Homo sapiens: one gene and its partner. The protein of the gene in region 1 interacts with the protein of each later gene in a pairwise test. Each region holds a gene or a part of one and is shown on either strand. Other genes may lie near its edges. The genes, in order: C18orf32 and SMO.

Evidence for each region.
Region 2: the proteins of C18orf32 (region 1) and SMO interact in a two-hybrid assay, tested with the Homo sapiens proteins (one large-scale study listed by BioGRID and IntAct).

Annotation. Positions count from the first base shown.
Region 1 is NC_000018.10:49,480,581-49,484,392, forward strand, and holds part of C18orf32 (UPF0729 protein C18orf32), read right to left. Parts: intron 3,192-3,812; coding exon of another isoform or gene 3,169-3,191; coding exon 3,004-3,168; intron 1,831-3,003; coding exon 1,765-1,830; 3' UTR 1-1,764. Other genes in the region: RPL17-C18orf32 protein, read right to left, coding at 3,012-3,191. UniProt on the Homo sapiens protein: May activate the NF-kappa-B signaling pathway.
Region 2 is NC_000007.14:129,187,019-129,190,930, forward strand, and holds the start of SMO (protein smoothened precursor), read left to right. Parts: upstream 1-1,614; 5' UTR 1,615-2,133; coding exon 2,134-2,464; intron 2,465-3,912. UniProt on the Homo sapiens protein: G protein-coupled receptor which associates with the patched protein (PTCH) to transduce hedgehog protein signaling. Binding of sonic hedgehog (SHH) to its receptor patched prevents inhibition of smoothened (SMO) by patched.

The DNA of each region.
Region 1 (3,812 bases):
ATGACGAAACCCTGTCTCTATAAAAAAAATTACAAAAAACATTAGCTGGGCATGGTGGTGTGCACCTGTAGTCCCAGCTACTTGAGAGGCTAAGGTGAGAGGATCACTTCAGGACTGCAGGTCGAGGCCATAGAGAGCCGTGATCATGCTGCTGCACTCCAGCTTGAGTGACAGAGTGAGACCCTGTCTCAAAAACATAAATAAATAAAAATGATGTGCATATTTAAGAACAAATTAATTTTCAAAAAGTTGCTAGAAGGTTACACACAAAATCAACTGGGGCGGACTCTGGATGCACTGCCTATGAATTAGCCTTGCTCCACAAGGAGCAGCACTGTTCAGGAAAAGACTACTGTCTAACAAAAACAAACCATACAACAACAACAACAAAAAAACAATTGGTTACCTCTGTGGAGCTGGAATAAGGGAATGAGAGTTGAGAAAAAACATTCGCTTTTCATTTAGGATCCTCTTGCATTGTTGTACTGTAAATATCTGTTATTTTTATAATAGTATTTATACCTTAAAAAAGTTTATTTGCTAATGAGAATTTATCTTATCCCTCAGGTGGCTTTGGACAGAAAAGCTGAGACCTGCTGATTTACATGATTTATATCAAATAAAGCCCAAGGTAAATCAGTGACTTGACCAGCCACAGAACTTAATAGAGCCTGAGTTAGGACCCAGACTTCATTAGGGACCCAAGGGCAGGAGTTCCTTTTAATCTTTCCCAGCTTCAGAGTGAATACAAAAAATATATAAGGATGCATCTCATCATCTTTGAATATTTATAGGTCCCTACACTGAATTTTCAAAGCCCAAGATAAAAATCACATAGCGGCCCAGGTCCAGACCCAGGCCCAGCCAGCCATATGAGTGAGCCCAGAACAGCAAAGAACTGCCCAGTCGAGTCACTGCTGCTGAAAACCACTAAATTTTGGAGTGTCTTGTTACGCAACAATAGTAATTGTTGTCCCACCACTACACAGATGCCATCACAACATCCAAATTCTGCCTTCTGACGTGGTGAAAAATTTCCCTTTTGAATATTTCAATAGACTTTAAAAGAAAATGAACTACCAGTTAAACTGAATGTTTAATACATTTGTAGGAACAGAAGAAATGCAGTAAGGATTAAAATTTTATAATTAGACATTAATGTAACAGATGTTTCATTTTTCAAAGAAGTTTCCCCCTTTTCCCTATCTTTTTTTAATCTTCCTTAGAGCAATAAATAGTAATTACTATATTTGTGGACAAGCTGCTCCACTGTGTTGGACAGTAATTATTAAATCTTTATGTTTCACATCATTATTACCTCCCAAAATTCTACCTTCATTTCCCTGCACAGTTTCACTGGACTGTTTCACAACAAAATTGTACTCCACTCAAATTAGAAGAGCCCAAAGAAATTAGAGCAAACAGCAAATTCATATGAATTAGAGAACCAAAGATTTTAAAGTGCTGATTTAGTAACATAATGTCTACTGGCACAAACCTTCTATTTAATCATATTATTCAAACAGCAATAACAGAAATGAAAGCTACATTAACGAAAAAGGAACTTAGGAATGAGGTCATTAAATATAACTAACTACATTTTAAATACGGATATCATATATTTCCTGATTAGTATCAGGTAAATATCTAGACTCCTATCCTGAATTCCGGTCTCAGATAAAAAGGTCAGAGACAATTACAAGGAAGATGCTTCATATTATCAGGTCCATTTTTTAAATGATGGGGTCCTTTAGGAAAATTTCTTTAGTCTTTCTTTTTATCACAGATTTCTGTTGGTCCTTTTGTTGGTAATCCATTCATGTCTGCACCCTAAAATGAAAAAACATTTTAGAAATTATCATAACAAGCCGGGTGCGGTGGCTTATGCCTGTAATCCCAGCACTTTGGGAGGCTGAGGCAGGCAGATCACGAGGTCAGAAGATCGAGACCATCCTGGCTGACATGGTGAAACCCCGTCCCTACTAAAAATACAAAAATTAGCTGGGTATGGTAGCATGTGCCTATAATCCCAGCTACTCAGGAGGCTGAGGCAGGAGAATCGTTTGAACCTGGGAGACGGAAGTTGTGGTGAGCCAAGATTATGCCACTGCACTCTAGCCTGGTGACAAAGCGAGACTTCATCACAAAAACAAAAACAAAAAAAAAAAAAGAAAGAAATTATTACAACAAAAAGATATTAAGAGACATTCTGTCTCTCTCTTTTTTTTTTTTTTTGAGATGGAGTTTCATTCTTGTCACCCAGGCTGGAGTGCAATGATGTGATCTCGGCTCACTGAAACCTCTGCCACCCAGGTTCAAGCAATTCTCCCACCTCAGCCTCCTGAGTAGCTGAGATTACAGGTGCCCACCACCGCGCCTCACTAATTTTGGTATTTTTAGTAGAAACAGGATTTCACCATGTTGGTCAGGCTGGTCTCAAACTCCTGACCTCAGGTGATCAACCCATCTTGACCTCCCCAAGTGCTGGGATTACAGGCGTGAGCTACCGCGCCCAGCTCAAGAAACATTCTCTTTAAAAACAGACAAGCTCCAGAGTGAAAACATTTTGCTTCCAGAAACGGGCCGGATGGCTAAATTAGTGCAGCTGAGTACAAAGCTGAATCTAAAAAAGCACCAATTCTAAAGACAACAGAGTTGTCCACTCATTTTTAAAAAAATTGTTTTTTTTTTAAATCTCTATGATCCTTCTAATTAAATCTCTTATCAAAGTCATCAATCAGTGAAACTGGTTTGTATCAGCATAATCTCTCCTCATCCATTAGCTATTTACCATTGCACTTACCAGTCAGAAAATATGGTTATCATTTTGGCCAAAGGACAAATGCATTAATCAGAGGCCTACTTTAAAACTTTAATTTAAGCCAAATGTTACACAAACTATTGAAGCTTCTGGTTCTAAAACTTGTCCTTCCAAAATCTAGTGTTTCACCCAAGTACCACCCCCTTTCACTGCTCTTATTCAAGGCATGTGAATGTTCTTACCTTAAAGTTTACTTTGCCTTTGTTTGTATCATTGGATTCTTGTATTGCTTTCTTAGGCCATATACGACTAACGAAGGGGGAAACCAGAGGGTATATATATGGCTCCAGGAATTTTTTGTAGATCCAGAGCAGAACTGGAATGACGATACAAGGAATGCACACCATTTTCCCAAGCTTGAGCTCCTCAACTGTTGATATATGTGAAGAAAAAAATTAGTTCATCACAGATTAGTAACTGAAAGAATTTACCAAGATTAAGATATCTGAAAGGGGATAGATGTGGTGGCTCACGCCTGTAATCCCAGCACTTTGGGAGGCAAGAGGATAGCTTGAGCCCAGGAGTTTGAAACCAACTTGCACAACAAAGTGAGACCTTGTCTCTACAAGATCAAAAAATTAGCTGGGCATGGTGGCATACTCCTGTGGTCCCAGCTACATAAGTGGCTGGGACAAGAGGATCACTAGAGCCCAGGAGGTTGAGGCTGCAGTGAGCCGTGTTCATGCCACTGCTCTCCAGCCTGGATGACACAGAGACACTTTGTCTCAAAAAAAGAAAAAAAAAAAATATATATATATATATATATACACACACACACACACACACACACACACACACACGAAAGGACTATTTCTACAGTGTAGGAAAAACTTAAAACATACTATTATATTTGCTAAAAAAAAAAGACTTTATTAAATAAAAAGCTGCTATCTACAAGGTAAAGAAATAGGCCAGGTGCAGTGGCTCATGGCTGTAATCCCAGCACTTTGGGAGGCCAAGGCGGGTGGATCATGAGGTGAGGAGTTCGAGA
Region 2 (3,912 bases), on another chromosome or scaffold:
TTACCTCCCACCAGGCCTCACCTCCAACACTGAGGATTACAATTCAACATGAGATTGGGTGGGGATGCAGATCCAAACCATATCACCTAATATTAACCAGTAAAGATTAATATCATTCCCCTAGTCAAAACTTTGAGATTTCCTTACTATCAAGAGAATTGACCCTTAATTCTGTGTGTTATTTGAGGCTTCTTACCAATCAGTTTCCCTACTTATCTATGTCCTTATTCTAACTCCTCCTACTCACACTTTAGTCCTGGATTCAAAACCCACCTCCTCCACTTCTATCCACACTGACCTCTGTCCCCTATTCCTATAGCATACTCACGGTACATCTCATTTTGGCAGCTTATTTATCAAGTGATTACTATGTATGCTCAAGTGAACTAGATGTTTTGTGAACACTAAGAGAATGAGATAAGGTCCCTGACCTGAAGGAGGGAACGTTGCTGTTCTGTCATGCTATGTTTCCTGAGAGCAAGCCATGTATCCACAGGAAAATGGAAGTCTACAGGTTCCTCCAGGATGTCTCTGTGCTATGTACATGCTGGAATTTCAGAAAGACTTGCTAAATTGAATTAAATTCTCTCTCTCTCTCCAATTGATATAGTTGAAGTGCAATAACTAATATGCACTTAAACTGTCCAAAGTAACAGAACTAGTCCACTACCGCTAGGCCATGAGCAAGTCTTCCAGGGGTAAGAAAGGAAAACCCACCCTGGTGTGCAGCCCGATCAGCAACAAGGAAAAAGTTGCTCAGTGCAAGTCTACTCTCCTGTTTGGAGCCTTGTGGTTATGCTGGGTTATACTTGGTTGTGCAGGTGTAAACTGCTGAAGTGGGAAATTAAGTGTGGTGACCAAAAGTGTGATGCTCAAAGGAGTGAGGAAAGGCAAAATGAGCAGAGTGGGGAAGAGGAGCAGCAGAAACCTCCCAGAGCAGATGAGCAGCAGGGCCATCAAAGAAGGACTGGTTTCCTTCTCACATAACCAAGGCCAGTCCCTGGGAACCACAGTTCAGACTTCACATATTTGTAGCAGTAAAGGCTTGATGTTGGCAAGTTTATTTCCCAGACACCTGTTCCCGCAGGTAACAGCAGCCAGAGCAGCTGCCGTGAGTGACTCTGAGGTCGTCTCTCTCAAAGGTCCCGAGCTGGAAGGATTTGGAGAAGCGCAAACCCCAAACCCAGGTTCTTCTCCATGGGGCCCCGGGATACGTTGGAAAATCTAACCAAAGCAGGAAAAACTGGCGGGCCTGGAGAACGGGGCAGAGATGGAACAGAAGTCCCCGTTGACTTCAGGCATCCCCTGTCTTTCCCATCCTGAGCCAGGAGAAAAGTCCGCTTCCTGCAGACGACCTCAGACCAAGCAAGGTGCCCGCCGAGTCTCTCCTTGCAGGTCCGGCCCACGATTTCCACTCATCTCTTTCCCCCGGGCGCGGGGCGGCGGCAGGCGGGGTCACCAGATCCCCCTAGCCCGGGCCCCTCCAGGCGCCAGGGACGCTGACGCTCGCGCTCTTCCTCTCTCGCCTCCCCTCCCCACCTCTCCGCTCCTTCGTCCAGTCCCTCCCCCAGCCTCGGCGCAGGGGGGCCGGGCTTGGCTCCGCGAGGCCCGTGCATTCCAGAGAGCCCAGCGAGCTAGAGCAACAAAGGAGCCGGGTCGCCGGCGGGGAGAGTTCGGGGGGCTGCGGCGCGCTGGGGCGAAGGTGGCTGCTGGGCCGCGGGCTGGCGCGGGGGCGGAGCCGGAGCTGCACTCGCACCCCCGGCCCGCGTCTGGCCTCCCTCGCGGGGCGGGGAGGTGGCTTTAATGGTGGGAGAGGGAATGGGGCTGGGGATTGGGGGCCCAGGGGTCTCCTAGGGCTGAAGACAACTTGGATTGCGAGGCTAGGGCTTGGGGAGTCGTGCATCCCGTTCCGGGCCTCCGCAGCCCAACATGGGCCCCGGGTTCCAAAGTTTGCGAAGTTGGGCGCCGAGGGGCCGGGGCGCGCGGAGCGTCCGGGGGGGCCCGGGCCCGGATTCTCTGGGCGCACAGGTCGCCTGAGCCGCCTCCGCGGCCGCCGAGGTCGTGCGTGTGGCCGGGGGGCTCCGAGGAGCAGGCGGGGGCGCCGGGGCTTTTGCTGAGTTGGCGGGGTTGGCCATGGCCGCTGCCCGCCCAGCGCGGGGGCCGGAGCTCCCGCTCCTGGGGCTGCTGCTGCTGCTGCTGCTGGGGGACCCGGGCCGGGGGGCGGCCTCGAGCGGGAACGCGACCGGGCCTGGGCCTCGGAGCGCGGGCGGGAGCGCGAGGAGGAGCGCGGCGGTGACTGGCCCTCCGCCGCCGCTGAGCCACTGCGGCCGGGCTGCCCCCTGCGAGCCGCTGCGCTACAACGTGTGCCTGGGCTCGGTGCTGCCCTACGGGGCCACCTCCACACTGCTGGCCGGAGACTCGGACTCCCAGGAGGAAGCGCACGGCAAGCTCGTGCTCTGGTCGGGTAAGTGCGGCGGAGCCGGGTCTGGGGGGCGGGAGGTGCCGCGGTAAGATGGGGGCACCCTTGGAAAGAACAGGCTCAGGCCTGAGTTTTGGAGAGGGCGGGGACAGCACCCGGGAGAGTTGGAGGGACAGATCCCGAAACTTTGGGGGCAGGTTACGTGCAGGATGGGACCCTCGGTCATGGGAAAAGGAGGGCAAGGAAGTTGACGAAGCGGGTCACAAAGGGCCTGAGCTGGTGGGTGAGCAAAGGATGGCGGGGATGAGGGGCCCGTGAGGAGGTGGCTCTAAGCCACGGGAAAAGACATTTTGTAAGAAGAGGAGATGCTCCACCTATTCTGGAAGCAGGGTGCCGGGGGATTCAAGGAGGTGTTGAAGACCCTGGGGAAATTGGAGTTGGAGAGGAAAAGGGGAGGGATGACGGAGGAAGAGGTTTAGACATTTGGAGGGAAGGGTAGGGGGACATGATCGAGTGAAGTTTTGAAGGAAAAGAAACCTCCCTAGTGATGAATTATTAAAAGGTAACCAGAAAGTTCTGGAAATCTTGATTTGGGAGACAGGAATGAAGCCTAGAGAACTGTGATCTTGTCTGGCTTTCACGGGAGATTTCATTCAGTTTGTGCATCTGAAAAACCGGCCCTCTGACGCATGCAGGAGGTTATGAAGGAATAAGACCTTTCTAACAGTTATTTGTGTTTTCTTTGGAAATTTGGTTACCGAGGCTGGTCAGGGCTGTGGAAGGACGCTTAAGTCTGGAGTGTTGAGAGCCTGTGGACACTTCCATGGTGGTTTGAAGTCCCAAAGCCCCCTCACTGGAGTGGCAGAGTCTGAAAAACTGCACACTGAACCCAAATGTCCTTCCTTAGCAGTGTGGAGTATACTCTCCCCCACCTGTCACTTTTCTAGATGAGGCTTGGAGGGTGCTGAGGAAGGGAGCTGGCCTTATCAGCCCTCGCTTCTAGCCAGTATGATTCTAAAACTGTCCTGGGAAAAAGAAAAGAAAACCAGGAGCCAGGAGCAGAACTGGGAGCCTCCCTCTTTTGACAGGGCTGGGGTACCCCATCTCTTAGCTCTGCCCAGGGGGCTGGTGAGGACCCTAATGTAGGGAGTGTATGTAGGCCGCCTGTCATTGACAAGTTCTCGGCCTTTGTCAGATGTTGGACAAGGCCATAAGGTTCCTGGCTTGGTGCAGATGCTGGAGGAGGAACTTGGAGGATGGTATCCATGGTACCCATGAGGAAGAGCTGCATCCTTTTTGGGGATCAGGTTCTAAAGTCAGCACAGCACATTAGACAGAAATCATGTGTAAACAACAGTGGCTTTGAAAACTCTGCAGATTACCATAGTGTAAGGTGGATGTGGTTTTGCATATACACTTCTTTTACGATGTTTGCATACATGTGTTACATGTATACTCATATATAAGAATGGGTATACATAGAAGATAAAATA